Regions from separate parts of the Homo sapiens genome. Here region 1 is linked to region 2. Evidence: fine-mapped expression QTL. A gene starts in region 2. The other region holds a variant in brackets. All regions are shown on one strand. Distances are between the middles of the regions.

Evidence for each region.
Region 1: its variant is fine-mapped to the expression of NAALADL1 in whole blood (TOPMed, PIP above 0.99).

The regions. Positions count from the first base shown.
Region 1 is chr11:65,022,921-65,038,616 of GRCh38, forward strand. SNX15 (sorting nexin 15) reads left to right here and starts at 4,519. Exons shown (of 8, transcript NM_013306.5): 1 at 4,519-4,716; 2 at 9,248-9,283; 3 at 9,511-9,631; 4 at 11,927-12,042; 5 at 12,139-12,286; 6 at 12,600-12,743; 7 at 15,652-15,696. The coding sequence starts at 4,618. It overlaps ARL2-SNX15 (ARL2-SNX15 readthrough (NMD candidate)), which reads left to right. Exons shown (of 11, transcript NR_037650.2): 4 at 4,398-4,716; 5 at 9,248-9,283; 6 at 9,511-9,631; 7 at 11,927-12,042; 8 at 12,139-12,286; 9 at 12,600-12,743; 10 at 15,652-15,696. It also overlaps the pseudogene EEF1A1P18. RefSeq lists an enhancer at 4,337-4,631 and a silencer at 4,481-4,650. The variant T/C (reference allele first, on the strand shown) is at 9,606.
Region 2 is chr11:65,054,644-65,070,339 of GRCh38, forward strand. NAALADL1 (N-acetylated alpha-linked acidic dipeptidase like 1) reads right to left here and starts at 3,910. Exons shown (of 18, transcript NM_005468.3): 1 at 3,694-3,910; 2 at 3,435-3,607; 3 at 3,232-3,353; 4 at 2,728-2,850; 5 at 1-95. The coding sequence starts at 3,878. It also overlaps a transcript of CDCA5 not described here. RefSeq lists a silencer at 12,114-12,408.

The sequences.
Region 1 (15,696 bases), 32 kb before region 2:
AGAGCGAGACTCTGTCTCAAAAAAAAAAAGCAATGGCTCTTGGGAAATGGGGAGGTGCATAGAGTCATGTGTAGGAGAGAGTGCAGCCAGAGGGTGGGAGGGGGGCCACATCAGGCAGGGGTAACTGAGGCCTTCCCTGAAGGCTACAGGAACTCAGAAGCAGTGCCAGGTTGGGAAAGGATAGGAAATGAGGCCACCCCAGGGGTCCAATCCAAGTGGCAAAACTGGCAGATGTTTTCATGGCACAGGGTCCTAGCAGCTGCTTACTCTGCAGGGTTCTGTGTGAAGGGGTGGCCTGTCCCTCCACACCTGTGGGTATATCTCGTCAGGTGGGACGAGAGACTGAGAAAAGAAATAGGACACAAAGTATAGAGAAAGAAAAGTGGGCCCAGGGGACCGGCGCTCAGCATACCAAGGACCCACACTGGGACCGGTCTCTTAGTTTCTTCAGTTTTTATTGATTATTACTTTCACTATCTCAGCAAGAAGAATGTGGTAGGAGAGCAGGGTGATAATAGGGAGAAGGTCAGCAAAAAAACGTGAGCAAAAGAATCTGTGTCATAATTAAGTTCAAGGGGAGGTACTATGCCTGGATGTGCACGTAGGCCAGATTTATGTTTCTCTCTGCCCAAACATCTCAGTGGAATAAAGAATAACAAGGCAGCATTGCTGCCAACATGTCTTGCCTCCCACCATAGGGCGGTTTTTCTCCTATCTCAGAATTGAACAAATGTACAATCTGGTTTTATACCGAGACATTCAGTTCCCAGGTGCAGGCAGGAGATAGTGGCCTTCCTCTATCTCAAGTGCAAGAGGCTTTCCTCTTTTACTAACCCACGTCAGCACAGACCCTTTATGGGTATCGGGCTGGGGGACGGTCAGGTCTTTCTCATCCCACGAGGCCATATTTCAGACTCTCACATGGGGAGAAACCTTGGACAATATCCGGCTTTCCAGGACAGAGGTCCCTGCAGCTTTCCACAGTGCATTGTGCCCCTGGTTTATTGAGACTAGAGAATGGCGATGACTTTTACCAAGCATACTGCCTGTAAACATTTTGTTAACAAGGCACGTCCTGCACAGCCCTAGACCTTAAACCTTGATTCCAAGGCCGGGCGTGGTGGCTCACGCCTGTAATCTCAGCACTTTGGGAGGCCGAGGCAGGCGAATCATGAGGTCAGGAGATTGAGACCATCCTGGCTAACACGGTGAAACCCCGTCTCTACTAAAAATACAAAAAATTAGCCAGGTGTGGTGGTGGGCGCCTATAGTCCCAGCTACTCGGGAGGCTGAGGCAGGAGAATGGCATGAACCCAGGAGGCGGAGCTTGCAGTGAGCCGAGATGGCGCCACTGCACTCCAGCCTGGGCGACAGAGCGAGACTCCATCTCAAAAAAAAAAAAAAAAAACACCTTCATTCCATACAACACATGTTTTTGTGAGCTCAAGGTTGGGGCAAAGGGGTTGGGGCAAAGTGGCTGGGGCAAAGTTACAGATTAACAGCATCTCAGGGCAAAGCAATTGTTCAGGGTACAGGTCAAGATGAAATTTCTTCTATCTTCCCTTTCTACATAGATACAGTAACAGTCTGATCTCTCTTTTCCCTACACTGTTCTAAGTACTACCCATTCCATTCAGCAATACAGTTAGGGACAGCCCTATGCAGTGCCGCCTATCAGGATCCTCTCTTATATGGGACACTAAGGGGTGGCACTGGCGTGGCACTGTACAGAGAGCTCAGGTGCCCCGGGGAACAGATAAGCTCTCCCAGGGGCCGGGGAGGCTTCCTGGATGGGCTGACCCTTGAGCAGGGAGGGAAGGGTCTGCGGTCACTGGCCACCACCAGCACCTTTGTTCTCCCAAGCCCTGCATCTGGACTCTCTGCAGCCACCACTGGTACGTCAAGGGCTGCAGCCCCACTGCTGGGGAGAACCCACTGCCTGGCATTGACTGGCTCCTGGATGACATTTCCTCCAGAAGGTTAAGTGCAATCTCTGCCTGCCGGGTTCAAGCAACTCTCCTGCCCCATTCTCCCGAGTAGCTGGGATTATAGGCACCCGACACCACACCTGGCTAATTTTTGTATTTTTAGTAGAGATGGGGTTTCATCATGTTGGCCAGGCTGGTCTTGAACTCCTGATATCAAGTAATCCGCCCGACTTGGCCTCCCAAAGTGCTGGGATTACAGGCATGAGCCACTGCACCTGGCCCCCAGCTAATTTTTAAATTTCTCATGAAATCAGAGGCAGCCTGTTGCCCAGGCTGGTCTTGAACTCCTGGCCTCAAGTGATCCTCCCGCCTTGGCTTCCCAAAGTGCTGGGATTACAGGCATGAGCCCCATGCCAGGCTTTGCTTCTTTCTGAAGACCAAGGCACCGCACCTGTACACCTGAATTCCAGGAACAAGAGTGGCTATTCACAATGCTTCCTCTGCAGTAAATACTATGTGTTGTATGTAAGCCTACCAACTTCATGCTGCATTTCAACAGATTTTTGCTTCAATTCTAACACTGACTGGAGCAAAGGTCTCAAAACCCATGCCAGGTTTGGGAACACCAGTCTCCACGTGGCCCACACTGACAGTACCAATACCACCAATTTTGTGGACGTCTGGAGGGGCAGAACCAAGAGCTTGTGAGTTGGTGGTAGGATGTGATCTAGAGCTTCCGAGCAGCGTGGTTCCACAGCATCGCCATCTTTACAGGTGACTTTCCATCCCTTGAGCCAAGGCATGTGAGCTCTTGGCTCCCGCCTGTTGTGACCACTCCAACCAGATATTGGCACAAATACTACTATGTCAGAGTTGTAGCCAATTTCTTAATGTAGGTGCTGATTTCCTTAATGATTTCTCCCATCTCTCCTTTTTTTTTTTTTTTTTTTTTTGAGACGGAGTCTCACTCTGTCCTCTGTCTCCCAGGCTGGAGTGCAGTGGCACGATCTCAGCTCACTGCAACCTCTGCCTCCTGGTTTCAGGCAATTCTCTGCCTCAGCCTCCCAAGTAGCTGGGATTACAGGCACCCGCCACCATGCCCAGCTAATTTTTGTATTTTTAGTAGAGACGGGGTTTCACCATCTTGGTCAGGCTGGTCTTGAACTCCTGACTTCCTAATCCACCCACCTCTGCCTCCCAAACTGCTGGGATTACAGGCGTGAGCCACCACGCCCGGCCCCCATCTCTCCTCTTTAGGGTGGCTCATTGGGATCCATTTTGTTAACACCAACAATTAGTTTCACACCCAGCGTGTAAGACAGAAGGGTGTGCTCACGCGTCTGCCCATTCTTGGAATTACCAGCTTCAAATTCATCAACACCAGCAGCAACAATCAGGACAGCACAATTAGCCTGAGGTCAGGTTTTTGATAAAGTCTCTGCATCCTGGGCCATTGAGGATGGTCACATAGTACTTGCTGGTCTCAATTGCCAGCAGGGAGGTATCAGTGGTGATACCACTCTCACGTTCAACTTTCAGCTTACCCAAGACCCAGGTATGCTTGAAGGAGCCCTTTCCCATCTCAGCAGCTTCCTCAAAATTGTCGATGGTTCTTTTGTGGATCCCACCACACTTGTAGATCAGATGGCCAGTAGTGCTGGACTTGCCCAAATCAGATGATGATGTTGAGCTGAGTCTTTTCCCTCCCCTGCTCCCTTTCTTTTGAGATGGAGTCTCACTCTGTTGCCCAGGCTGGAGTGCAGTGGTGTGATTGCAGCTCACTGCAGCCTCAACCTCCTGGGCTGAAGCCATCAGCCAGCTCAGCCCCTGGAGTAGCTGGAATTACAGGCGTGCGCCACCACGCCCAGCTAATTTTTGTATTTTTAGTAGAAACGGGGTTTCACCATGTTGGCCAGGCTGGTCTTGAACTCCTGACCTCAAGTGATCCACCTGCCTCCACTGCCCAAAATGCTGGGATTACAGGCGTGAACCACCGCGCCAAACCCCCATTTTGGCTTTGATTTAACGGTGGTTTTCACGACACCTGTGTTCTGGCAGCAAACCCATCGCAAAAAAGCTCCACTGCCCTACACAGATTCTATTATAAACATCTCCATTCTACAGATGAGAAACTGAGGCTGAGTAGTTAAGGGAAACTCCTACAGCTAGTAAGAGTCGTGACTCAGAGCCCATGACACCATCCTGCTTCTCCAACCTTCTTTGCTTCCTCTACTTTCCAGAAAACATGAATTAGGGAATCCTGTGGAGGGAGACAGGGAAATAATTTGACGTTGTCCTGTACATACTGGACACAATAAGAGTTGGGTGGATGAACGAAAGCAGGGATTTAGGAAGCGGGGAGAAGTCGTTTGGAAGTCTGTGACAAGGGTTTACGCTTGGATAGGGTGGGCTTGATCACCCGGCAGAAATGAGACGAGTGATCCCAGCCTTCCCAACCAATCTTTCCAGTGACCTGGGTTTACGCTTCACCACAGAGAAGGAACTTTTCAGACGCTCCCTTGGCCGCGCACCCGGGATCGGAACAGCGCTGTCACTTGCGACAAAATCCCTAGGCCAGAGGAAGAAGAGCGCAGGCCTGGCGAGGCGGCGGCGGGCGGAGGCTGGGCCGGAGGGGTGGGGACGGCGAGGAGGTGGAGGCCGGCGCTCCGCTCCGCTCCAGCTCGGTTTCATGTCCCGCCAGGCGAAGGATGACTTCCTGCGGCACTACACAGTGTCGGACCCCAGGACTCACCCCAAGGGCTACACCGAGTACAAAGTAACCGCGCAGGTGAGGTGGGGCCCAGCGCGTACTTTACCCTTTTAACTAGAGGGGCGCCGAGTTTTACCTTAAGGAAAGGCGGTGCAGCCACTGCTCCCTTTTTAGACGACAGAAATGGGTTTCCCCTTTAAGGGGAGGTTGCAGTACGAGGCTTAGTTTACATCTTTAACCACCAGGGGGCGGGGTCCTGGGTGGGCGCTGTCTTTTTTAAAAGGGCGTTGACGGCCGTTCCCGGACAGGCAAGGCGTGTATGCCCACGCCCGGAGTGTAGTGTCTGGGCATCAGGCTGTGAATTTCTCTAAATTAACATGAAAACTCTGGTTTAATCCAAATATTAGTACTCCATTCTCGTAGAGTAAGTTTTGTTTATTGGTTTGTTTGATGTTACATAAACTCCCTTTAACGAGTTTAACCATTTTTAATTTTTCAAAAAATAATACTGATCAGTGGTTGAAAAAAATTGATGCAGTTCAGAAGGACTTAAGGAGTAAGTCGCCATATCAAGGTCACAGCAGGAAGATAGATAGGCTAGAGTTGATATATGAAGCGATAACAACATCATAAGCACAATTTATAGAGAGACATGGAGGAAACCATGACAATAATTAAAAATGAAACAGTAAAACAGGACACCTGTAGAATGATAACAAGAACTGGTAACAAGGAAGGTCCCCAGGGAGAGGAACTGTGTCACTGGGGACAGGAGTTAGGGGAAGACTTTTTACTGTAAATTTTTTGTACTTTTAGAATTTTCAACCAGGCGACTATTAAGCTGGTGCATTAGTTAACTCTAAAAGCAAAGCAGGCACATAAGGACACTTCCAAAGTGATCTAAGTGCAGAATCTTAGCTATTTAAAATATGCTTTCCCCAAACCGTTTACGTCTTTTCCATGCCTAAAAATAATGCAAATAAGGCCGGGCTCAGTGGCTCATGCCTGTAAATCCCAGCACTTTGGGAGGCTGAGGCAGCAGATTGCTTGAGCTCAGGAGCTCAAGACGAGCCTGGGCAACATAGTGAGACCCCGGATCAATATTAAAATACAGACACACACACAACTTTAAAAAAAAAAAAAAAAAAAGCAAATAAATAGATTGTCCCTGGGAAGATAGACTGGAGGTGGGGCTGGGGTGGGGAGGATGTGGCAAGGAACTGTAACCTTTTATTATAAGTCTTCCCAGTGGTGGCCGGGCGCGGTGGCTCACGCCTGTAATCCCAGCACTTTGGGAGGCCGAGGCGGGCGGATCACGAGGTCAGGAGATCGAGACCATCCTGGCTACCATGGTGAAACCCCATCTCTACTAAAAATACAAAAACTTACGGGCGTGGCAGCGTGCACCTGTAGTCCCAGGTACTCGGGAGGCTGAGGTAGAAGAATGGAGTGAACCCGGGAGGTGGAGCTTGCAGTGAGCCGAGATTGTGCCACTGCACTCCAGCCTGGGAGACAGAGCGAGACTCCGTCTCAAAAATATAAATAAATAAATAAATAAATAAATAAATAAAAATAAGTCTTCCCAGTGGCTTTTTTGTGTCGTTGTTTTGTTTTGTTTTTGAGACAGAGTCTCACTGTCGCCCAGACTGGAGTGAAGTGACTCGATCTCAGCTCACTGCAAACTTCCGTCGCCCGGGTTCAGATTCTCCCACCTCAACCTCCCAGGTAGCTGGGACTACAGGCACGCGTCACCATGCCCAGCTAATATTCGTATTTTTTGGCAGAGATGGGGTTTCACCATGTTGGCCAGAATGGTCTCGATCTCTTGACCTCATGATCCACCCGCCTTGGCCTCCCAAAGTGCTGGGATTACAGGTGTGAGCCACCACACCCGGCCTCCCATTGGCTTTTTAAACCAAGCAACATGCATTACTTTGATATATTTTTATACATATTATATAATACAATGTATTATATATAATAAATATAAAATATAAAGCACATAATATATAAATATATGTATGTATATATTTTTTGAGACGGAGTCTTGCTCTGTCGCCCAGGCTGGAGTACAGTGGTGTGATCTCAGCTCACTGTAGCCTCCACCTCCTGGGTTCATGCAGTTCTCCTGCTTCAGCCTCCTGAGTAGCTGGGATTATAGGCGTGTGCCACCACACCCGGCTACTTTTTGTGTTTTTAGTAGAGACGGGATTTCACTGTGTTGGCCAGGCTGGTCTCGAACTCCTGACCTCAAGTTATCCTCCCACCTCGGCCTTCCCAAGTGCTGGAATTACAGGTGTGAACCACCGCGCCTGGCCTATATTTTTATTTTATTTTATTTTATTTGCGACGGGGTCTTGCTCTGTCACCCACGCTGGTGTGCAGTGGCATGATTCACGTCTTACTGCAGCCTCAAGTTCCTGCATTCAATCCATCCTCTTGCCTCAGCCTCCTGAGTAGCTGGGACTACAAGCATGTACCACTACGCCTAGCTCAATTTTTAAATTTTTTGTAGAGGCTGGGCGTGGTGGCGCACGCCTGTAATCCCAGCACTTTGGGAGGCCAAGGCGGGTGGATCATGAGGTCAAGAGATCGAGACCATTCTGGCCAACATGGTGAAACCCCGTCTCTACTAAAAGTACAAAACGTAGCTGGGCATGGTGGCGCTCACCTGTAGTCCCAGCTACTCGGGAGGCTGAGGCAGGAGAATTGCTTGAACCCGGGAGGCAGAGGTTGCAGTGAGCCGAGATCACACCACTGCACTCCAGCCTGGTGACAGAGTGAGACTCCATCTCAAAAAAAAATTTTTTTTTTTGTAGAGACAGAGTTTTGCCATGTTGCCCAGGCTGGTCTCAAACTCCTGGCCTCAAGCAATCCTCCCATTTTGGCCTTCCAAAGTGTTAGGATTACAGGCCACCATGACCCACCGTACCTGGCCTATAATTTTTTTTTTTTTTTTGAGATGGAGTCTCACTGTGTTGCCAGGCTGGAGTGCAGTGGCATGATCTCAGCTCACTGCAACCTCTGCCTCCTGGGTTCAAGTGATTCTCCTGCCTCAGCCTCCTGAGTAGCTGGGACTACAGGCACTTGCCACCACGCCTGGCTAATTTTTGTATTTTTAGTAGAGACAGGATTTCACCATGTTGGTTGGCCAGGCTGGTCTCGAACTCCTGACCTCAAGTGATTCTCCCACCTCGGCCTCCCAAAGTGCTGGGATTACAGGCATGAGACACCACACCTGGCCACTCAATGGCTTTTAAATAGTTTCTTTTACCAGAATATTTTAGGCAAGTCTCTGTTGTCAAAAGCAAAGTCCAGGGTTTTAGTCCCAGCCATCTTTCTTACTTAGTGTGTGGTCTACTATGGCCACACCTCTCAGAGCCTCCATTTCCTCATCTCTTAAGTGGGCATGTCAATTATGTCTGCCTCAGTGGGATCTAGGATAAGAAATAGATGTTTTTATTTATTTATTTAGTGTGTGAGAGACAGGGTCTCACTCTCTCCAGGCTGGAGTGCAGTGGTGCAATCTCAGCTCACTGCAACCTCTGCTTAACATGCTCAAGTGATCCTCCCACCTCAGCCTTCTAAGTAGCTGGGACTACAGGTGTGTCACGCCACCACACCCAGCTAATTTTTTGTATTTTTTGCAGATACTGGGTGTCACTATGTTGCCCAGGCTGGCCTCAAACTCCTGGACTTAAGTGCTCTGCCCACCTGGGCCCCCTAAAGTGCTGGCATTACAGGTGTGAGCCACCGTGCCTGGCATAGGAGATGTTATTAAACTGTCAAGTACCCCAAACCATAGGACATTATTTTAAAATTATTATGAACATAACGATGAAAACTGAATCTTGTTTTCACCTCAGACCCAAGTCTGCCCTTCCAGGGACTTCAACTCCAGTGATGGTTTCTTCTGTGTCCAGGGCGCTGAAGCGCAGGATCTTCTCCCGCAGGGAAGGAGGTTCCTGAGGCAGAACCTCCCTTCTTTGGAGGCTTGGGGTTCTTTGGTTTCAGAAGTAGATGGAGGGACTTGGTCTGTTCAAGGAACTGGGATAAAAATTGGGCTGATGGCCGGGTGCTCACGCCTGTAATCCCAGCACTTTGGGAGGCTGAGGCGGGCGGATCACTTGAGGTCATGAGTTCCAGACCAGCTTGGCCAACATGGGGAAACCCCATCTCTACTAAAAATACAAACATTAGCAAGCGTGGTGGTGCATGTCTGTAGCTTCTTGGGAGGCTGAGGTAGGAAAATCGCTTGAACCCTGAAGGCAGAGGTGGCAGTGAGCCGAGAGTGTACCACTGCACTCCAGCCTGGGCGACAGAGCGAGACTCCATCTCAAAAAAAAAAAAGTTGGGCTGAGGTTGGAGCAGTCCAAATGGGCCTTTAGGGGTCCTCCTATTTGATAGATGGAGAAACTGAGGTACATAGTAGGAAAAGTTGCTAAAATTACACGCGAAGGCTTAAAGCCAGGGTGCCTTGATGCCAGAGGCCAATGGCCAAAGGCTACTGCCCCGTGAGGGGGACTAGGAGGCACCTGGGGCATTACAGGGTGAGAGGGTGTCAGATGGCAGTCTCTGGTCTCAACCAGCTCTTGCCTTTCTTTCTCAGTTCATCTCAAAGAAGGACCCAGAGGATGTCAAAGAGGTGAGGCTCCTGGGAGGAAGAGGGACTGTTCTGCAGTTCCAGATCTGGAAACTGTCAAGGGGCAGCTGGTAACTCTGCTTGGACATCGGCCCTCCTTCCTCCCTGTCCCTGGGCGAGGGGCTGCTGCAGCTGCTTCCTGATCCTCACGCCCCCTGGGGGCAGGCTAGGCATGGGGGCGGCTGCCTCCCACCATTGCTGGTTCTGGGCAAGTCTCATGTACCTCATAGGTGGTGGTCTGGAAGCGGTACAGCGACTTCCGCAAGCTGCATGGAGACCTGGCCTACACCCACCGCAACCTCTTCCGCCGCCTCGAGGAGTTCCC[T/C]GCTTTCCCCCGGGCCCAGGTGTTTGGTGAGTGTTAGATTGGGGCACTCGGGCCAAAGATGGAGGGAGCATTGGGCAAAAGGGGACCTCCGCCAGTGGGGGCTGGATAGAGAGGGCCTGAAACCCTGGGCAGAGTCATGTTTGGAAGGGCCCTTAGAGATGACCTCATTTGACAGATGGGGAAACTGAGGCTCAGAGTAGCCTAACCCTTACTGTGTATTTCACCTTTTAACATTCCTGTTGGGCCAGGCGTGTGGCTCACGCCTGTAATCCTAGCACTTTGGGAGGCCAAGGCAAAACTCCATCTCAAAGGAAAAAAAATCCTGTCTTTATCAGCTCCATTTTATTTTCCTTTTTCTTTTTTGTTGTTGTTGACAGCCTCACTTTGTCACCCAGGCTGGAGTACAGTGGCGCTGTCTTGGCTCACTGCAACCTCCACCTTCCAGGTTCAAGGGATTCTCTTGCATCAGTCTCCCCAGTAGCTGGGATAACAGGTGTGCACCACCACGCCTGGCTAATTTTTGTATTTTTAGTAGAGACAGAGTTTCATCATATTGGCCAGGCTGGTCTTGAACTCCTGACCTCAGCTGACCTGCCCGCCTTGGCTTCCCAAAGTGCTGGGATTACAGGCGTGAGACACTGCACCCGGCCCATCTCAATACTTAGTATATTGATTACATGTTGCAATGAGAATATTTGGGATATATTGGGTTAAATAAAATATTAAAATTAACTTGTGGCTAGGTGTGATGGCTCACACCTGTAATCCCAGCACTTTGGGAGGCCGAGGCAAGCGAATCACGAGATCAGGAGTTTGAGACCAGCCTGGCCAACGTGGTGAAACCCCGTCCCTACTAAAAATACAAATAATTAGCTGAGTGTAGTGGCAAGTGCTTGTAATCTCAGCTACTCAGGAAGCTGAGGAAGGAGAATCGCTTGAACCTGGGAGGCAGAGGTTGCAGTGAGCCAAGAGTGTGCCATTGCACTCCAGCCCAGGCGACAGAGTGAGACTCCGTCTCAAAAAAAAAAAAAAAAAAAAAATTGTTTCTTTTTTCCTATTATTTAATCTAGCTGCTAGAAAATTTAAAATTGCATATGTAGCTCATATCTGTATTAGACAGTGCTGACCAGTTGCTTGGGTCTGCATACTCATGTGAGATGTTCTTTTTTGTTATTGGTTTTTGTTTTTGTTTTTTGAGACAGAGTCTCACTCTGTCACCCAGGCTGGAGTCCAGTGGCATGATATCAGCTCACTGCAAACTCTGCCTCCCAGGTTTGAGCGATTCTCCTGCCTCAGCCTCCCAAATAGCCAAGTAGCCACCCAAGTAGTGTGCGCCACCACACCTAATTTTTTTTTATTTTTAGTAGAGACAGGGTTTCACCATGTTGGCCAGGCTGGTCTCGAACTCCTAACCTCAAGTGATCCACCTGCCTCGGCCTCCTAAAACGCTGGGATTATAGGTGTGAGCCACCGCACCTGGCCGAGATGTTCTTTTGAAGCAAGGTAAAGGATTGCTGCTGTCAGGTTATGCCAGGCCAGTGGGGAAGTACCACAGACTGGCCGCACAGTAACTGGACCAGAGTTAGCCTGCTCTGCAAAATACCTAGGACAGAGCAGTGAAACTGTGGCTCGCACCTGTAATCTCAGTGCTTTGGGAAGCCAAGGCAAGGTAATCACTTGAGCTCAGGAGTTCAAGACCAGCCTGGGCAACATGGTAAAACCCCATCTCTACAAAAAATACAAAAATTAGCCAGGCATGATTGTGTGCACCTATAGTCCCAGCTACTTGGGAGGCTGAGGCGGGAGGGCGGCTTGATCCCAGGAGGCAGAGGTTGCAGTGAGCTGAGATCGTGCCACTGCACACCAGCCTGGGTAACACAGCCAGTCCTTTTCTCAAAAAATAAACGGGGGCTCCTTGCTTTGTGACCTTGGGCAAGTCACTTTCCCTCTCTGAGCCTTACTTTTCTCATTAGATCAAAGCCATCAGAAATGCTTTTGTTTCTTGTTAACTGCCTAGCTCCCCCTGGGTAGGATATGATATTCACAAGGGCAGAGACTGGTTCCTCCCCTGTTCACCTTCTGAGTCTAGCATATAGTAGGTGCTCAGTAAACATCTGGCAAATGAATGAATAGGGAAATTGATCCCTCCTGGAAGCCCCTACCTCACCCCAGGAGGAACCAGGGCAGATTGCTGGGAGAATGGGTAGGAGGGCAGTGAGTTGCTCAGAGCATCTCAGGCAGGACCAGGAAAAGTGGCCTTGGGGCAGAAGCCCCTGTGGGTCACCGCCACTCTCCCCTGTTCCTTGTCCTGGGGGCCGTAGGCCGGTTTGAAGCCTCAGTGATCGAGGAGCGGCGAAAGGGGGCAGAGGACCTGCTTCGCTTCACTGTGCACATACCTGCGCTCAACAACAGCCCCCAGCTCAAGGAGTTCTTCCGGGTATGTGCACCTTCCACCTTCCCAGAACTTGGGCCACTTACCCACCCACCAGATTGCACCCCATGACTCCCCATGTCTGATCTTTCTGTCCTGCAGGGTGGGGAGGTGACCCGACCCTTGGAGGTGTCCAGGGACCTACACATCCTGCCACCCCCTCTGATCCCCACCCCGCCCCCTGATGACCCCCGGCTATCCCAACTGCTCCCTGCAGAAAGGAGGGGCCTCGAGGAATTGGAGGTGCCAGGTACATCGGGGTGGGAGGAGGGAACCAGGGCTGGAGGGTGCAGAGTGGGGAGGGCGGCCACACTCCCTCCTCAGTGATCTTACTGAGAAATGTGTGTGTGTCCCAGGTCTATCACTTAACTGGCTGAGGAACTTTGGGCAGGTCCTTTTCCTTCTCTGTGCTACAGTTTCTTGATCTGTAAAATGAGCACAAACCCTAATAACAGGCTTGTCTATGCCCATGGTTGCTGCAAGGGTTTAAGGAGAGAGTAATTCTATTTTGAAAGCTGAGAAATAAACGCAGGTATTCATGACCCCACTTATCTCTTCCTCAGTGGACCCCCCACCATCCAGCCCTGCCCAGGAGGCCCTGGATCTCCTCTTTAACTGTGAGAGCACCGAGGAGGCATCTGGTTCCCCTGCCCGAGGCCCCCTCACCGAGGCTGAGCTTGCCCTCTTCGACCCCTTCTCCAAGGAAGGTAATGAGCTGGGACAGCCGGGAAGGAGCCAGGGCAGGACGTCCTTGGGACAGGGAGGAGGGCAGAGCCCCACTAGCCTGCTCAGTGCCTGCGCAGATCAGGGAGAGACGTCTCCTCAGCAGTGCTGCCCTGTGGGCCAATAGCAGCTTCAATGAGAATTAGAAGCCCTGTGCCAGGGCACGTGGTGTGGTGTGCTGGATGCACCTGTGCAACAAATAGCCACGAGGAAGGAAAGGAGGCACTTCCCATGTTGGGGCCATCTCACTGAGAAGGCTTTGGAAAGAGCCGGGTCACACTGCTCTGGGACATTTTAGTTCCTTCCCTGCAAGCTCTTGGTGGGATTTCCTGACTGGCCAGGGTCTGGCTGCAGATCCTGAAGGCAAGAGGCCTGCTGGTCAATGGGAGTGAGTTCTCAGCTCAAAGGGCAGCTGCAAAGGGAAATCCCTCTGGGGGCCTGGAGCCACTGGCATTTGGGGATGCTGGAGGTAGAAGGGCCCCCCCAATGGAGGTCAGGGTCCTGGGCACCTTCTTGCTGTGAGATCCTGGGACTCGACAGTCCCAAGCTCTGAGACACTGGAGTTTTTCATTCTAAAATTTGCCAACGCCTGGCACATTGGCTCACACCTGTAATCTCGACACTTTGGGAGGCTGAGGCAGGAAGATTGCTTGAGCCCAGGAATTCAAGACCAGCCTGGGCAATATAGCAAGAGTCCATGTCTGTTATTCTTTTTCTTTTTTTGAGACAGAGTCTCACTTTGTCGCCCAGTCTGGAGTACAGTGGCGCAATCTCTGCTCACTGCAACCTCCCAGGTCCAAGCGATTCTCCTGCCTCAGCCTCCTGAGTAGCTGCGACTACAGGCGCGCACCACGGTGCCTGCTAATTTTGTATTTTTAGTCGAGATGGGATTTTTCCATGTTGGTCAGGCTGGTCTCAAACTCCCGACCTCAGGTGGTGCGCCCGCCTCAGCCTCTGAAAGTGCTGGGATTACGGATGTGAGCCACCGCGCTTGGCCCGTTTTTTTTTTTGAGATCGAGTCTTGCTCTGGATTGCCGAGGCTGGAGTGCAGTGGCGCGATCTCAGCTCACTCCCACCTCCGCCTCCCGGATTCAAGCGATTCTCCTGCCTCAGCCTCCTGAGTGGCTGGGACTACAGGCGCGCGCCACCACGCCTGGCTAATTTTTGTATTTTGAGTAGAGACAGGGTCGCACCATTTTGGTCAGGCTGGTCTCAAACTCCTGACACTCAAGTGATCCACCTGCCTCCGCCTCCCAGAGTGCTGAGATTACGGGCGTGAGCCAAAATGCCCTGCCTCTTTCACTTTTCTTGTTCTGCCTCCTCCCGTTCCTGCTCCTGCCTCTCCAGGGTTGGGGAGTGGGAAGAAGGAATGGGAGGGAAAGGCAATGTTGGTGTCACAGGGCTGTTATGCCTGGCCTCTGGGTGGCAGGCATCCAAGTGCTCTGTCCTTGTGCCAGCTGAGTCCCTGCTGGGCAGCTAGCTGCCTGGGCAGGAGCTTTTCTATTTTTTTTCCTCTCCTTTTTAATTTTTTTATTTTTTTTTATTTATTTTTTGAGACAGAGTCTGGCTCTGTCACCAGGCTAGAGGGCAGTGGTGCGATCACGGCTCACTGCAGCCTCCAACTCCTAGGCTTAAGCGATCCTCCCACCTCAGCCTCCCAAATAGCTGGGACAGGACCACAGGCATGCACCATCATGCCCAGCTAAGTTTTTGATTTTTTGTAGAGATGAGATCTCACTATGTTGCCCAGGCTGGTCTCAAGCTCCTGGACTCAAGTAGTCCTCCCACCTCAGCCTCCCAAAGTGCTGGATCATAGGCATGAGTGACTGTGTCCAGCCAGGATCTTTTCAAGACCCTTCACAGACAGCTCCAATGAGACATTCACTCAGCCCATGGGAAAAGTCCCCAAAGCCTGGAACTGCAGTGTGCTCAGACACTGCCTTATTTCCCTACCCTGCCATGGTGGGCACCTCCAACAAGCCTCTCACCACCAGAATTCTCGAGGCAAGGAGTGGGCACCTGTGTCTCCCTTCTTCACAGCAAACTCCTTAACTCGAGTGTGCAGGTGTCCCAGGTACTCTTCTGCTCTCTGCTCCCTGAGCAATACATGGAGGGCTGTAGGCCCAGCCAGGAGGTGCCTTCTCCCTCCTGCAGGAGGCCCGGACTTCTCAGGGCTCTCATGGAACTCACAGGGATGGGGTTAGAGAGGCACCCACTTTTTCCCTCTCCAGGATGATAGGGTATCATGATGCTTCCTGCCCCCGCACCTTCCCCTCAGAGGCCTTTTCACCAAAGGTGCACCAGATTTCCAGTCGCCTCGTGTGTAAGCTGCAGGTAGGATGTCCGACCCCCTTTTAGCCAGTCCAGGGGGATATAATGAGCCTTTACCTGGGAAATGTGAGGACACCTGTCACTCACTGTCTTTACATTTGGGGGCCTCAGCTGAAACTGCAAGGCTTCAGAAAACCCCTGAGATTCTCTAAGTCTCCTATTCTAAGATTATTCCAAGTCTTGGAGCATTTCTACCCTCAGCCTGGTGGTGGTGGCCTAGCATCCTTCAGGGAAACTTTCTGGAGGGGATTTTTGGATTTCTAGGTCAACTGGAGTCAAGAGGGAAATAGGACCAGTGACCCAGAGCTTACAAACTAGAGTGTGTACCTAAAGACATAATTAGGAAGGTAAGGCTGTTTTTACAGAAGCACATGAACCCTATCGATCAAATAGCTCATGGCTAGTTTTTGATCCACAGACGACTTCTGGATTGCTCTGGCATTGGTCCCCTCTACTGGGGACAGGCTGATACCCTGATGGACAAAAGAAGTCTTGGGGTTGGGCAGAGGGCCTGGGAAAGGAAGGGCCAGTCTGGTCCGAGTCCTCCCTTTCTAACTGCAGAAGGCGCAGCCCCCAGCCCCACCCATGTGGCTGAGCTGGCAACGA
Region 2 (15,696 bases):
AAGGTTTCGTCGGGTGAGCTCAGCCCATCGTTGATGTCGGCAGGGTCTGTGTACACCAGCACCCCAGCTACCCCGTGCTTGGCAGCGTTCACAGCCTGCAGTGGGCAGAGGAGGCTGTGTGTAAGGGAGGGACCGGGACCAGATATGTCCTATTCCTCTTCCTCCTTCCTCGACTGTGGAAGCCAGGATAGACCAATCTTCCATGGGCAAGATGACGTTTGCACAAGTCATTTATGGCAGTGCCTCTTGCAACAGTAAAGGCCAGTTCGGCACAGCCAAGCCCGTGCCTATCAGTGGAGTCTGGTTGAATAACAGGGACATCCTACAGTGGAATACCATGAAGCTGCATAAAATAACACAGTTGTGTACTCATGTCCACAGCAGCATTATCCTCAACGGCCAAAAGGAGGAAATAGCCCAAGTGTCCATCAACAGATGAATGGCTAAACCAAATGTGGGCTGTAACATACAATGGAGGCCGGGTGGGGTGGCTCACGCCTGTAATCCCAACACTTTGGGAGGCTGAGGCAGGCAGATCACCTGAGGTGGGATCACCTGAGGTCAAGACCAGCAGGTAGATCACCTGAGGTCAAGACCAGCCTGGCCAACATGGTGAAACCTTGTCTCTACTAAAAATACAGAAATTAGCCAGGTGTGGTGGTACACACCTGTAGTCCCAGCTATTTGGGAGGCTGAGGCACGAGAATCGCCTGAACCTGGGAGGTGGAGGTTGCAGTGAGCTGAGATCATGCCACTGCACTCCAGCCTAGGTGACAGAGCAAGACTCTGTCTCAAAAAAACCCCAACAAACAAACAAACAAAAAACAATGGAATATTATTCAGCCTAAAAAGAAAGAAAGTTCTGATACATCAATGAGCCTTGAAGATGTTATGTTAAGTGAAATAAGCCAGACATAAAAAGACAAATATCTTATACTTTCACTTATGCGAGGTACCTAGAATAGGCAAATTCATAGAGACAGAAAGTAGAATTGAGGTTACAGAAAATAGAATAGGGGCTGGGGCAGGGACCTGGGGAGTTATTGTTAAATAAAGTTTCTGTTTGAAATGATGAAAAGGTTCTGGAAATGGGTAGTGGTGATGGTTAATTAATAATCTGTGTATTTCTACACTGCTTGTTCCCCTTTCTTTTTCTTTTCCTTTTTTCCCTTTCTTTTCTTCCTTCCTTTCTCTCCACCTTCCTTCTTTCTTTCTCTTTTCCCAGCTCTTATTATGGACACCTTTTTTTTTTTTTTTTTGAGATGAGGTCTTGCTCTTGTCCCCCAGGCTGGAGTGCAATGGCATGATCTCGGCTCACTGCAACCTCTGCCTCCTGGGTTCAAGTGATTCTGCTGCCTCAACCTCTGAGTAGCTGGGATTACAGGTGCCTGCCACCATGAGCGGCTATTTTTTGTATTTTTAGTAGAGACAGGGTTTCACCATGTTGGCCAGGCTGGTCTCGAACTCCTGACCTCAGGTAATCCACCTGCCTTGGCCTCCGAAAGTGCTGGGATTACAGGCATGAGCCACCGCGTCCAGCCCACTTTTAAAAAAATTGTGGTAAAATACACATAACATAAACTTAGCATGTGGAGTATGCAGTTCAGTGGCATTCAGTACATCCATATTGTGCAACATCACCACCATTCATCTCTAGAACTCTTCATCTGACAAATCCGAAACTCGGTCCCCATTAAATACCAACTATCCCTTCCCCTCTCTCATTCTACTCTTTTTATATTAATTTTGTTTGTTTGTTTGTTTTTTGTTTTTAGAGATGGAGTCTCGCTCTGTCACCCAGGCTGGAGTGCAGTGGCACAATCTTGGCTCACTGCAACCTCCACCTCCTGGGTTCAAGCAATTCTCCTGCCTCAGCCTCCTGAGTAGCTAGGACTACAGGTGCACGCTGCCACACCCAGCTAATTTTTGTTTTTTTGTATTTTAGTAGAGATGGGGTTTCACCGTGTTGCCCAGGCTGGTCTTGAACTCCTGAACTCAGGCAATCCGCCTGCCTTGGCCCCGCAAAGTGCTAGGATTACAAGCGTGAGCCACCACGCCCATGCCCAGCCTTTTTTTTTTTTTTTTTTTTTTTAAATCAGAGTCTCGATGTCTCCCAGGCTGGAGAGTGCAGTGGTGCAATCTCAGCTCACTACCATCTCTGCCTCCCAGGTTCAAGCAGTTCATCTGCCTGAGCCTCCCCAGTAGCTGGGATTACAGGCATGCACCACCATGTGTGGCTAATTTTGTATTTTGAGTAGAGATGGAGTTTCACCATGTTGGCCAGGCTGGCCTTGATCTCCTGACCTCAGGTGATCTGCCCACTTCGGCCTCCCAAAGTGCTGGGATTATAGGCGTGAGCCACAGCGCCCGGCCCCTAGTCAGAATTTTTGATGGAAAAGAAATGGCAGGGAGAGGGCCAACAGGAGGGACTTAAGTTGAATATTCAAAACTATTTCACAGGAGGACTTAGACTTCTGGAATACCAAACCTGAAAATTGTACTCAACCCCTTTATTTCCTACAGCTCAGAGAGGGTCAGGGAGGCATCCGAGGCCACACAGCCCATTGGTGGGACAACCCGAAAACACCTTGCCTTTCCTGCCCCACCCTGGGGCTTGGTTCCCCACTCAACACTGCCTCTTCTCCTTCCCCTTCCCCTCACTTCCTCCAGTCCACTGCCCAGCCCCTTCCTCACCGAGGCCTCCTGCACTGGGGGACTGCCACTCACCTTGGCCCCACGCCCTACACCCCCATATCGAGTCAGGGCAATGGTGCCTTCAAGTTTGATGCCCTGAGTCTGTAGCTCCTTAAAGTCTTCTTCCGCGCCCCGGTTGGCATAGACGAGGAGGCCCTAGTCCCAAGAGGGGGTGATCCTTAGAGCTGGGCCCAGCGAAGTGTGGGTGGGGAAGGGGGGTGGAAGTTTGCATGGCAGGAGGGAGAATTTAGATTCTGTTCCCCCACCTCACCCAGAGCTTGTAAGCTCCCCAAGAACAGTCACCCCTCATTTCCTCCATGTCTGGGTGCCCTGTAACAGACCTGGCCTTGAGCAGAGCCACTAGTGTTTGTTGAATGACTGATGGAGGAAAGGAGCAGCGATGGAGTGTCCCGGTGAGTAAATTCCGGAGGGCGCGCTGTGCCCCAGTTGAGGCACGTTCCCTGGGTCAGGGTGGGGAGAACCCTGGGTGGAACCAAGGGAGCTGGGCCAGAGCAGTAGGGGGGGTTCTGGGCCCACCTGTGGGGTTCCAGAAGGAGCATAGGCAGCATAGGGTTGTACCACATCTGGCCCCCCTTGCTCCCCGGTCACGTTCTCCTCAGTCCGGTGGCAGGAGTGGATGATGCCCCCAGTGGGGCCCACTGTTGGAGGGGTGGCAGTATCATGGCTGGGCCCAGCAGCTCCCCACCCCCGGGCATTCCCAAGACTGGGCAGGACCTCACCGATGTCCACGACGTTGGGCTGCTCCTGGCTAGGGAAGGACAGCAGCACTTCGTACGTGGAGGCCTCGGCCGAGTCCAGGCCTGACTCTGGGTCCTTCCAGCGCTGCAGCAGCAGCTGCACCAGGTCCTCATCCCGAGGGCTGGAGGCCAGGTGTGGCTCCCTGGAGAGTTCTCTGCAGGGTGGGCAGAGGGAGGGGCAGGGCCAGCATCAGGGAGGGGGCCTCTGGCAAACGGAGGAGCAGATGGCCCCACTTCTCACCTGAGGTTCTCCCGGATCCTGTGGGCATCCAGCTGCCCCATGACGGTCTCCAGGATCTCCAGGTCCAGGTCCTGGGGGGCCAGTGAGTTGGCTTTTTTGGGGATGGCAAAGTGGCCGAGGATGATCCCCAGCCCCAAGAGGGCAGCAGCCCCCAGCCCCAGCCCCAACACCTTCGTCCACTGCATCCTGCGGACTCTTGGCCAGCTGGGGTAGGACTGGTCTATAGGTTATTCCCTATAGAGGGGGTGTTGTGCCTGGTTAAACATTACCCCATGGGTGGCACTGCCCTTTGACCCCCAGCTGGCAGGGAGAGTGAGGGAACATCCCGCAGTGAGAGCCAGGAGCCATCCACATCCACCACATCCTGCACCATTTGCCTGGAATGGCTCTCCAAGGGCAGCAAGGTCACCCAGGGACACTGAAGCCGAGAGGGAAGGGGCTCATCCAGGGTGTCCCAGGAAAACAGAGGCCAAGCCAGGGCTGGAACTCAGAGCTCCTGTGTTCACAGCAGGGCCGTGCCCACTGCCCACCCTCACTGCCTCTGCCTCCCTCCAAGGCAGCCGATCTACAGCATACCCAGCCCTACCTGCCTGAGCAGATTTTGAGTTGAGATCCCCCTTCTTGCTGGACGTAAGCTGTGTGACCTTGGGCAATCCACTCAGCTTCTCTACACCTGTTTTCTTTTTTTTTTTTCTAGACTGTGTCTTCCACTGACACCCAGGCTGGAGTCCAGTGGTGTGATCTCGGCTCACTGCAACCTCCACCTCCCGGGCTCAAGTGATTCTCCTGCATCGGCCTCCCGAGTAGCTGGGATTACGGGTGTGCACCACCATGTCCAGCTAATTTTTGTATTTTTAGTAGAGATGGGGTTTCACCATGTTGGCCAGGCTGGTCTCAAACTCCTGATCTCAGGTGATCACCCGCCTCAGCCTCCCAAAGTGCTGGGATGACAGGAGTGAGCCACCGTGCCGGCTATGGTGTCATTTTCATTAAACAATATGGCATCTGTAGAAATAGCTAGTGCAGTGTCTGACATGTAGTGGGAGCTCATCAATTTTAACTACTCATCCCTCATCTGACTCTGGAAAATGTAAGGCCTAGAGCTAAAGGAAGAAGGAGGACCCAGAAGAACTCTCTGTGTCTATCCTGAAGGGAGCCCAGCGATACGAGGAATGGGAGTCCTGGGAAGGGAGGCTGTCCCAGAGGAGGCAGCAGGGGAAGCCCATGCCTCCCTGGCGAGGTGACTTCCTCTTCTATCCCCTGGCTCTGCCTGGACTCCGTCATCCACCCTCCTATTTATCCATCCACCCATCCCTCCATTCACTTATTCATTCCTTCCTTTATACATGCAAGCACTGTTCATTCTGTGCTATACTAGAGCCATGCAAGGCTGTGGGGAAGCAAAATCCAGCAGGCGAGGCAGACAGGCTTTAGGTTCAGCCATGTGGTAAGTGCCCTGTAGAGGGAGGATCACCATGCTCCCAGTGAAAGAGTGAGGAGTTCTGACTAGGAGGGAACATCTGAGGGGGTCCTCCAAGGCTGAAAAGGTGTTCCAGCATTTGCAAGGGCTGAGAGGGAAGTGAGACCCCAAGTATGCCATACACATACTGAGCCTCTTCCAGACCTCACGGAGAGCCAGGAGGGGCTGGGGGGGTCCCTAGGGACTTGAGCTGGGACTTCTCCCACCCTCCCATGGCCTATCCTGCCTTGACTCTGCCTCGCAGGTTGCAGCCCATGGATGGGCTCAAAGATGCCTGCAGAGCTTGGGGGCTGGATCAGGGCAGAGCGTGTGTGTGTGTGTGTGTGTGTGTGCACGTGCATGTGTGTGTGTGTGATTTCACAGACCCCTCTCAGAGCAGCCTCCTTCCTGCTCACAACCCCATTTTGCTGGCACCACCATCTCTTGTGCTGCTGGTGAGGAGGTTCAGCATGGGAGGACTAGGGGTGGCTGGGAAGGGATGTCATGTGATCAGTGACTTCAGGGAGGTGCACCAGGAAGCCACAGTTCTTGGCAACGTGATTATCGACGCCCAGAATATGACCTTGGATCTTATCAGAAGCCCATCGGTGCAGGGAGCATACACCTTCCTTATGAGGACACAGGACAGTCACCACCAGGTGGGGAGTGGGATGCCAAGGTCAGCTGATAAGTTGAGGGACTGAGGCAGCAACCCCATGGTCCTACCCCACCCACTCCTGGAAGGATTTAACCCCTCAATCATGTGAAGTCACAAACAGGACGCCTGGACAAAAGTGTGTGACATCTGAGTGATAACACCTGGGACTGTGGTTTGTGTTGGAGAGTGTGTAAACAGCTGTGTGTGTGACACCCAAGAGATCCACTCAGGCTGTTGGAATCCACTGGTGTCTACATGGCTGTAGGCACCAGACGTTAACTTAGTCAATTTTCTTTCCTTCATCTTTGCTGTGTGGGTGGTATGGCCCCTCCCAGAACATTCTGGATTGTGGGAGTTCCTAGAAATAACTTACGGTAGTTAGAGCACATGAACACCTTTCATTTTCCTGCCTTATTCTCCCAATGGCTCTGGGTCCAAGGGGTCTTCAATCCTCCAGGACCAGCAATGCACTGCTGCTGGCTCCCTCCCCACTCTCCACCTGCCCCACACACTTGCCTCCGTCCCACCCTCCTTCACCTCCCACGTGTACTCACCTTGCCCAGTTTGAGGCCCTGGAAGCCCTCTTAACCCCCAATCCTCTCTGCTTTGGTCACATCCACTGGGAAAACACCATTCTGGTTACTTCTGACTCACTTTCTGCTTCTTCTGCGCCTGCACCCTTGCCCCTGGATGTGCCTGCAGAGTCACGTGGCCTCCCGGACACCATGTTGTGAAGACACTCAAGCAGCCCTGTGGACAGGCCTCATGGTGAGGCGCTAAAGCCTCCTGCCAACATTCAGCACTAACTTGCCAGCCCTGTGAATAAACCAACTTGGAAATGGGTCCTCCAGCACCAGCCAAGCCGTCAGAATACAGCGGCCCCTGCTGGAATCTTGACTGCAGCCTCACGAGAGTCCCTCAGCCAGTACCACCCAACCAAGCCACTTTCAGATTCTTAACCTGTGGACACTGTGTGAGATAATACATGTTTATGGTTTTGGGCTACTAGGTTTTGGAGTGATTATAACCGAGCAAAATAGGCCAGGCGCGGTGGCTCACGCCTATAATCCCAGCACTTTGGGAGGCGGAGACGTGCGGATCATGAGGTGAGGAGATCAAGACCATCCTGGCTAACATGGTGAAAGCCCGTCTCTACTCAAAATACAAAAAAATTAGCCGGGCGTGGTGGCGGGCACCTGTAGTCCCAGCTACTCTGGAGGCTGAGGCAGGAGAATGGCGTGAACCTGGGAGGCAGAGCTTGCAGTGAGCCGAGATAGCGCCACTGCACTCCAGCCTGGGTGACAGAGTGAGACTCCGTCTCAAGAAAAAAAAAAAAAAAAAACAAAAAAAACCACAGCAAAATGGAGAACCAATACAAATGACTAAATATAGACCAGAAACCCGCAAGTATATGTCTCCAATCTAACCCATCCCCGAACTCTTGTATTTCCAGCTGCCTAATTTTTTTTTTTTTTTTTTTTTTTGAGACAGAGTTTCGCTTTTGTTGCCCAGGCTGGAGTGCAATGGCGCGATCTCGGCTCACCGCAACCTCTGCCTCCCAGGTTCAAGTGATTCTCCTGCCTCAGCCTCCTGAGTAGCCGGGATCACAGGCATGCGCCACCATGCCCAGCTAATTTTGTGTTTTTAGTAAAGATAGGGTTTCTCCATGTTGGTCAGGCTGGTCTCAAACTCCCAACCTCAGGTGATCCGCCCGCCTTGGCCTCCCAAAGTGCTGGGATTACAGGCGAGAGCCACCGTGCCCAGCCTGCAGTGGCCTCTTAACTGGCCTCTCTGATTGTATTCTTGTCCCCTCTAGTTTTTTTCTCTACATAGCAGTCAGACTCATCTTTGTGAAACCCAGGTCCGCCATGTCACGACCGTGCTCACAGCCCTCCAAGTCTCCCTTTACACTCAGAGTAACAGTCATGACAGTGGCCATAGAGCCCTTCATGTCTCAGACCCGGTCCCCTCCCTGTCCTCCTCACTCACGGCTCCTGTAGCTCTGGCCTGCTACTGTCCCCTGAGCCTACCAGGCACACTCCTGACTCAGTGCCTTTGTGTTGGCAGCTCCCGCTCCCTAGAACCCTGCTCCCCAGCTGTCCACAGGGCTCCTTCCCTCAGGTCCTTTGTGTCTTTGCTCAAATGTCACTTCTCAATGAGCTCTTCCCTGACTACTCTATCTGAAATTGCATTCCTGGCTGGGTGCAGTGGCTCATACCTATAATCCCAACACTTTGGGAGGCTGAGGCAGGAAGATCGCTTGAGTCCAGAAGTTCAAGACCAGCCTGGGCAACATAGTGAGAATCCATGTTTAAAAATACATAAATAAAATAAAATTGCATTCCTCCCCCTCCCTCAGGCTTCCTCTTCCTCTGTGGCTTCATTTTTCTCCATTGCATCTATCCTCATGTTACTTGTTCATTATTTCTTGCTGCCCCTCCCAGAGCGTAAGTTCTACCAGGGCAGACATCTTTGTTTTATTCACTGCCGAAGCCCCAGAGTCCAGAGCAGTGCCCGGCACCTATGAGGCACTCAACAAGTATTTGTAGATTGGAGGCAAAGCTGACCTACGCCAGCACAGCAACTCAACACTCCTGCTCCAGCTGTCTTCTGTCCAAGGGGTGTTCAGAGCAATAAGAGATGTAAAAGGTGGGCACGAGACCCCTGGGAAGCAGATCCCCTCTGGGTAAGCCCCACCAGACTGCCAAGGCAGCCATGCATAGGACACCTGCGTAACAGGCGCAGGTGCCCTCACAAGATGGGGATGGGATCTAACAGACTTTCAGTGCTGGGTGTTCCCAAAGGATGACGTTGCAGGATGGAGGAAGGCCCTGCCAGGCTGCAGGGTCTGGCCACCCTCTTGGGCAGGAATACCAGGCCCTTTAGTGGGGAAGGGAGCCTGCTGGGAACACTGGTACTCAGAGCTGCTCCCACTGGGCCTGCAAAGCCAGTTTGGGGGCCAGGGTAGATCCACTGGAGATCAGATAACAGTCGCCAACACATGGAATGCACCAAGTCCACACAAAATCATTCATCCTCCGAGGTGGACACAGTGGAACCCCATGTTACAGATGAAGATGTGTGTCCAGGCACTCAGTCAAGGTCACACCAGACAGCAAGGGGTGGAGCTGAGAGTAGAATGCAGCGCCTGCACATTCACGAAGCTATCCCACCTGCCATCACTAGGCAGGAGAGAGGCATCCCATTCTGCCCCTCACTAGAGAAATGGTGCCAGCCAGACAGAGGAGGCTGATTTGCTAACCCAAGCCCAGTGCCTTGATGACAGAGGCCCAGGAGGTGTGGGCACAGCTTGTGACTCACATGGTAGCCTCCTTTGACTGGGAGAAATGTGTGTGAATGAAAGGACCAGGTAACACCCTGGGGCCCACGCAGCTTTGCTGTGGGACCTTCCTTGACAGGAACCTCTGGGCTGGGCTGGGACTGCTTGGATGCAGTGTCAACAGGAGTGGCTGCAGGGACTGACCTCAGGACAGCCAGTGAAGGATCCCTGAGCTGCAGAACCATGGCCAGGATGCATTCGAATCTATAAGCACTTCTGTGGTTTGGAGCTGGTTGGGGAGGGGGCTCCGTAATAGACTCCATTTCCTGCAGCCAAGCAGTATTCATGTAACCTTATTCGAGCGCTGTCCCAGGCTGAGACATAATTAAATAAAAGCATAATTAGCCGGGTGCAGTGGCTCACACCTGTAATCCCAGCACTTTGGGAGGCCGAGGCAGGTGTATCACAAGGTCAGGAGATCGAGACCACCCTGGCTAACACGGTGAAACCCCGTCTCTACTAAAAATATAAAAAACTAGCCAGGCATGGTGGCGGGTGCCTGTAGTCCCAGCTACTCGGGAGGCTGAGGCAGGAGAATGGCATGAAGCCAGGAGGCAGAGGTTGCAGTGAGCTGAGATTGCGCCACTGCACTGTAGCGTGGGCGACAGAACAAGACTCTGTCGCAAAAAAAAAAAAAAAAAAAGCATAATTAGTCTCTCTCTGTGTCCTTTTAAAGGAAACATCAAATGGGACCATGCTGATGACTGCATCTTATTGACAGAAGTCCTTAAATGGGTAATTGATTTAGCTGTTGATCCAACTACCATCAACCTCAGTACCCTATGATTCCCTTTGGGAAAATTGCAAGACAGCTGTTTGTACAGCAGGGCCCCTGGTCAAGGACAGGTCAGGAAGTAGGTGGTTGGGGAGGTCTGGGATCCCTACAGCCATCGGGTGAGGAGGGTAGAGTCTCAGAAGGGGTGGGCTGCTAAGTCAGAGATGTTAGTCTGGGAGCGGTAGCTAATGCCTGTAATCCCAGCATGTTGGCAGGCTGAGGCGGGAGGATTCTTTGAGCCCAGGAGTTTGAGACCAGCCTGAGTAATATAGCAAGACCCTGTCTCTATTTATAAAAATAAAATGTAAAAATATGAAGAAAAGAGATGTTAGCTCAGCTCAATTCAGCCTGAAGCTGGGGCAGAATCAAATAGTCACTAATCAAGCACTTCATCAGTTACTTTGCCCAGGCCTGATCCCTAGGAGTCTGGTGTAAGTCAAACCAGGCCTGGGGAGAAGCCACAAACCTGAATTTCCATCCTCTTGGCTGTTGTCTCCCTACAGTGAACATAAGGCAAAATGATCATCCCCAGCCCGTTCCGTGTCACACGAGGATTAACGAAGGAATTCTGCATGGTGGATCTTTTACCATCCATTAGACCTAGATGCTGTAAAGTTAGAGGTTACTTTACAGAAAACTGATTAAGATGCAAAATGATTTCTGCCCAGTGAATAATACAAGCCTTAGAGTTATGGGACTTTTTATTTTATTTTAAATTAAAAAAAAAATTTTTTTTTGAGATAGTGTCTTGCTCTGTCGTCCAGGCTGGAGTACAGTGGTGCCACCTTGGTGCGCTGAAACCTCAGCCTCCCAGATTCAAGTGATTCTCGTGCCTCAGCCTCCCAAGTAGCTGGGATTACAGGCACGTGCCACCACACCTGGCTACTTTTTGTATTTTTAGTAGAGACCAGGTTTTCCCATGTTGGCCACACTGGTCTCAAACTCCTGACCTCAGGTGATCTGCCCACCTCGGGCTCCCAAAGTGCTGGGATTACAGGTGTGAGCCACTGTGACCAGCCCGGGTTATGGGATTTTAAAAATAAATGCCCTTTAGAATATTAACCAATTTTGTATGTAATTTAGCAATCTTCTATCAGGATTCCTTGCTTTCTCCCCCTTGACTATATACGTGTCAGTTTTTTGTATTCTTTTTTGCAACCCCATTGGTGGAGGGGGGTTGGGGGCTCCCAGGAGGCCCTGGGCCAGAGGGCTCCTGGGTTGGAGGTGAAACTCAAAATCGATATGTATCTCCAGGCCTGAGGGGTATAGGATGCGGGCCCTTGGGGAGTTGCCACCACCTCTCTCTGCCCCCCAACCCCATGACTTACAAAGGGGAAGGGACTTTTCCAAGGTCACCAGATGGTTAGTGGCTCTTCCCCTATCCCTCCCCCGCCTACACCCCAGTATCCTTCTGCACTTTGGAGTTAGAGCAGGTACCCAGATCCTCCGGGGAGGGACTGCGGCCCCTTTCTGGCCTCACCCCAGTGCTTATCTTGGGAACATCGCCCTTGAGCTCTCATCTCCAGGCTGACAACAACCAGGCCTGGAACCTTCTGTGAGGGGTCGGGGGAGGGCAGGGCCATGTCGGGGAGGGGTAGATGCAGAATGGGTGAGCTGAGGGAGTGGGGGTGATGTCAGAGGGTGGCTGAGGGGCTGAGCTCAGTGTGGACGTGGTGACCTCCTGCTCCCCACCTGAGCCCAGGGCCCACAGACACTTGGTGAAGCTGAAGCTTAGCTTCCAAGTTTATTTCTGGGATCTAGGGAGGAGCTGGCTGAAGGAGCGGCCTCCCGAGGAGGTGTCCGACCTCTGGCCTGGGGCCTGGCCAGGCCTGACCCTGGTCTCTGTGGTCGTGGGGCAGGTCAGGCAGCTTGAAGAGGAGACCTGCCTTCCGGGGGTTTGGGTCACTGCAGGCAGAGACAGCTCGAGTGAGCAGCATGGGGCAGCCGCCTCTTCCCTCCCCGCTGCCATGGCTGCCCGCACACCTGAGCAGAGCCACCTCCGGCAGGGCCTGGCTTTCCTCCTGCAGGGCCTTCACTTCATCCTGGATGGCCTGGGCCTCCTCCTGGATGGCCTGGGCTCCCTCCTTCAGGCTCTTATACAATAAGGTGGGCTGGACAAAGGGTTGCAGGGCTCGAGGTGGGTAGCCAGCCATGCAGGACAACCCGAAGCCCCTCTAGGAGAGCTGGGCTGGGAGGCAGGGAGGAGGCAAGACAAAGAAATGGGGTCCTGGCTCAGGGTCTTACCAGGTTCTGCAGCTTCTCCCCCAGGGCCAGGTTGTGCACTTGGGTGGTGTTCAGTGACTCCCGAAGCCTAGGGTTGAAAAACAGACCCCTCCCACCTCAGCCAGGCTTTTGTTCCAGGCAGCACTCCCCACCCCTCCCACCTCCTGCTTCAGCCACCTGGTCCTATAGCCACCTGGGACCAGTGTTTCAGTAAGAGCCCAGTCTTCCTGTCCCGGCAAAACCACAGGTGGGATGGGAATTGTTCTCCCTGAGTGATTGGTAGCAGGGGACCGAGAGAGAGACTAATTATGCTTTTTGTCTTCCTTTGCAAGAGCAGGGCAGGCTGCTTCTGTGGGTGGGCTAGAAACCCTCTGAGGCTCCCCTTGGAAGGGGTGGGTGGTATAGGGCTAGCCGCTCCTTTGGGCTGTAGGCAGGGTTGCAACAGGATTCTCTGTGGCTCCAGGCCAGTGACAGGGCCAATGCTGGAACCAGCCCTGCCTAGGCGCTCCAGGTCAGCTGTGTATGAATGGGAGAGCTGATCACTCAGGTCTATGGCCTGGAAGCCTCCGTCATGCCCTGCCCCCACCTCAGGACCTTTGCTGACAGATGGGGCTCTGACCCCAGCATTACCTGAGAGGGGCGAGCGGCCATGGGATTGTGTGGACCCCAGCTCCAGAGCCCGACATCCAGAGAACAAGCCCCTCCCCCAGACTGAACGCTCCTCAAGTTCTTGGACAATTAAAGGTGGGGGTTCCTGAATGCCCGTTCACCAGCCACGTGGGCCCTGACCTGAAAGCCAGGCCTGGCCTTGGTCGGGGGAAGCCCTGTCACCCTACCCGCTCCCATCTGCCCGCCCAGATCACCTCATGCAGTCATTCTGCAACTGCCTGATCTCCTTTGAGGTCCGCTGGGGGCCCCAGTCCTCCTGATCTAAGAACTGGTACTCCTGGATCTCCGAGTCCCTGGAGCAAGTGGGTAGTGAAGGTCAGGCCAGAGGGTCTAGGGGATGAGGGAAGTGGGTGGGTGGTGTGGGGGTGCCCAGCCAAAGGCCCCGGCTTCAGCAGGCCTCTCTGGGCCTCCTCTCTGCACGGGCCAGGACTGAGTCCTAGCCCAGGTTTGAATGTTTCTGGGTGTGGGGTGGGGAGAAACACCATCCACCTCCCCCAGTTTTGTGCGTGCCTGCATGTGCCTGCATGGGCACTCTCTCTCTCTCTCTCTCTCTCATGCAGCCTTACGATTCAGGGTCTTTTGGCTCAGTGGGCTCAGAGGTGTTCAGGAGTGTAAACAGGAACGTGACGGTGGGTTCCAGTTGTTCTGAGGAAGGTGGCTTTGCAGAGAAAGCGCCAAGGTGACTGGAGAGGGTCACGGCTGCTCACCCAAGAGCCTGGGTCCTCCCACACCCCCCATCCTTGCCATCTCCCTGTCTTTCAGGGGCCCCATCGTCTGTATCCCCCACCCTGTAGGGAAAGCCTGGTAGGAGGTATGAATGGGACCTGTCCAGGAGGCCCTCCAGCGCTGAACTCCCCTGCACCCATTCCTCAGCCCTGAACCCAGGAGCTGGGCCTGGACGCCCTGACAGCTGGAAGCTGGGTGTGACGACGGGGGTTCAGGCCTCCATTCAGATACAGGAAGAATTTCTCCAGCTCTCCTGCCTCCCCTGCCCACTGCCTTAGGAGGCCCTGGGGTTTCCCATCACCTCCAAGTTCCGCTCCTCGGAAGCCTGAGGGCCCTTGGGTTCTTGCTCCTCAACAGGCTGCACCACTGGCTTGTTGGCCAGCTTGGAGTGGGCTCTTTGTCTGCCCCTAAGAGACTGAGAGAGACAGAAGCCTGCTAGTCACTCACATCTACCATCCCCGCTATGCCATTTCTAGCCTGGTCTGGTTTTTAGGGGGCGGCTTCCAGCCTGGCGAGCGTCTATCACCAGCTCTGTCCAGCAAGCCAGACCCCCTCAAAGTGAAAGTTGCCAGATTTAGTAAATACAATATAGGCCCAGTGAAATCTGAATTTCAGCTGAAAATGGATACTTTTTCAGTATCTGTCTCACACAATGTTTGGGATATACTTACACTAAAAAACAATTCACTGTTCATTTGAAATTCAAATTTAACTAGGTGTCCTGTATTTTATCTGGCAGTCCTGCCAAACTACATGCTAAAAATATTTTGAGGCTGAGTGCAGTGGCTCACGCCTGTAATCCCAGCACTTTTGGAGGCCAAGGCGGGAGGATCGCTTGAGCCCAGGAGTTAGAGACCAACCTGGGCAACACACCAAGACCCCATCTCTGCAAAAAATTAAAAAATTGGCTGGGCATCGTGGCGTGTGCCTGTAGTCTCAGCCACTTGGGAGGCCGAGGTGGGAGAATCACTTGAGCCTGGAAGGTTGAGGCTACACTCAGGTGTGTTTGCATCACTGCACTCCAGCCTGGGCTTCAGAGCGAGACTCTCAAAAAAAAAAAAAAAAAAAAAGCTGAAGTTAATAGAATTGTGGCTATTTTTCACCCCGGTATTTTTCAGAATCTTGTGCATCTACTGGCCAAGTAACCACAGACATGGTCCTTCTTCACACTGAGTCCACCTGCGCCTCTAGATCCCCATGGACTTGTGGCAGGGGGCTTGTGGCCTGGGCTTGTGGCTGTGTTATATTGTACCTTTCTAGGCAGCCTAAAATTACACAATTCCTGACCACGTGACATAAACCGACAGCTCTGCAGAGGGCCCCGTAACCCTGGAAAGTCCCAGAGCTCCAGCGTGGTATGGCTGCTGGAGAATAGGTAGCTCTGTCACCAGGAGAACCTGGCTGCGTATAACAAGATCCACAGAACGATGGAGAGTCATGCCTCTGAGAACCTCACTTTGGAAACGGCTTAAAGAAACAACTCCAAATAAAAGTAATTCACATGGACGACCACAGTAGCTGATTTACACCATGAAGAAAAACTGGAAGGGGCCTAAAAGGCCCAAATATAAGAAGTGGTAAGGAAACAAAGACTTCTTCACATGGTAGGATACAATTCACTCATGCGCTTACTGGTCCCTGTAAACATTGCCTGTGGCGTAGGCCTTGGGAACATATAGATGGACACAACCTGGTTCTGCGCAGAAGTTTCCGGAAGATGAGGGAGGCCTCAGGTTTGCAGCTGACCACAGTGCGGGGGGATGAGCCACACAGAGGTTTGTACAGCGAGCCCTGGCTGCAAGAGGAGGGAGCCATGCATTCTGCTTCGGAGCTCCAGAGAGACTGCACACAGGATGTGCCGCCGGGTCTCAAACAAGGACGCAGGGGAGACCAGAAGAGGGAATGGTGTAAGCAAGAGCCGTGGGGTCCTGCGAAGGGCCCAAGACAGGGCCTGGGCTGTAGCCCACAGGGGACGAGGAGGCATAGGGATCTTTGTGTGTCTGTTATGTGGGCTGTTTGGCCATAGTTCAGAGGGTGAGTGGAAGGCGTAGACACTGGGGCCAGGATGCCAAGGGCCCTGGAAGTGAGGAAGAGAGGCAAGCCACCAACTGCTGCATGTGACAAGTGTCTAAACTCTGTTAATCCTGGAGAAG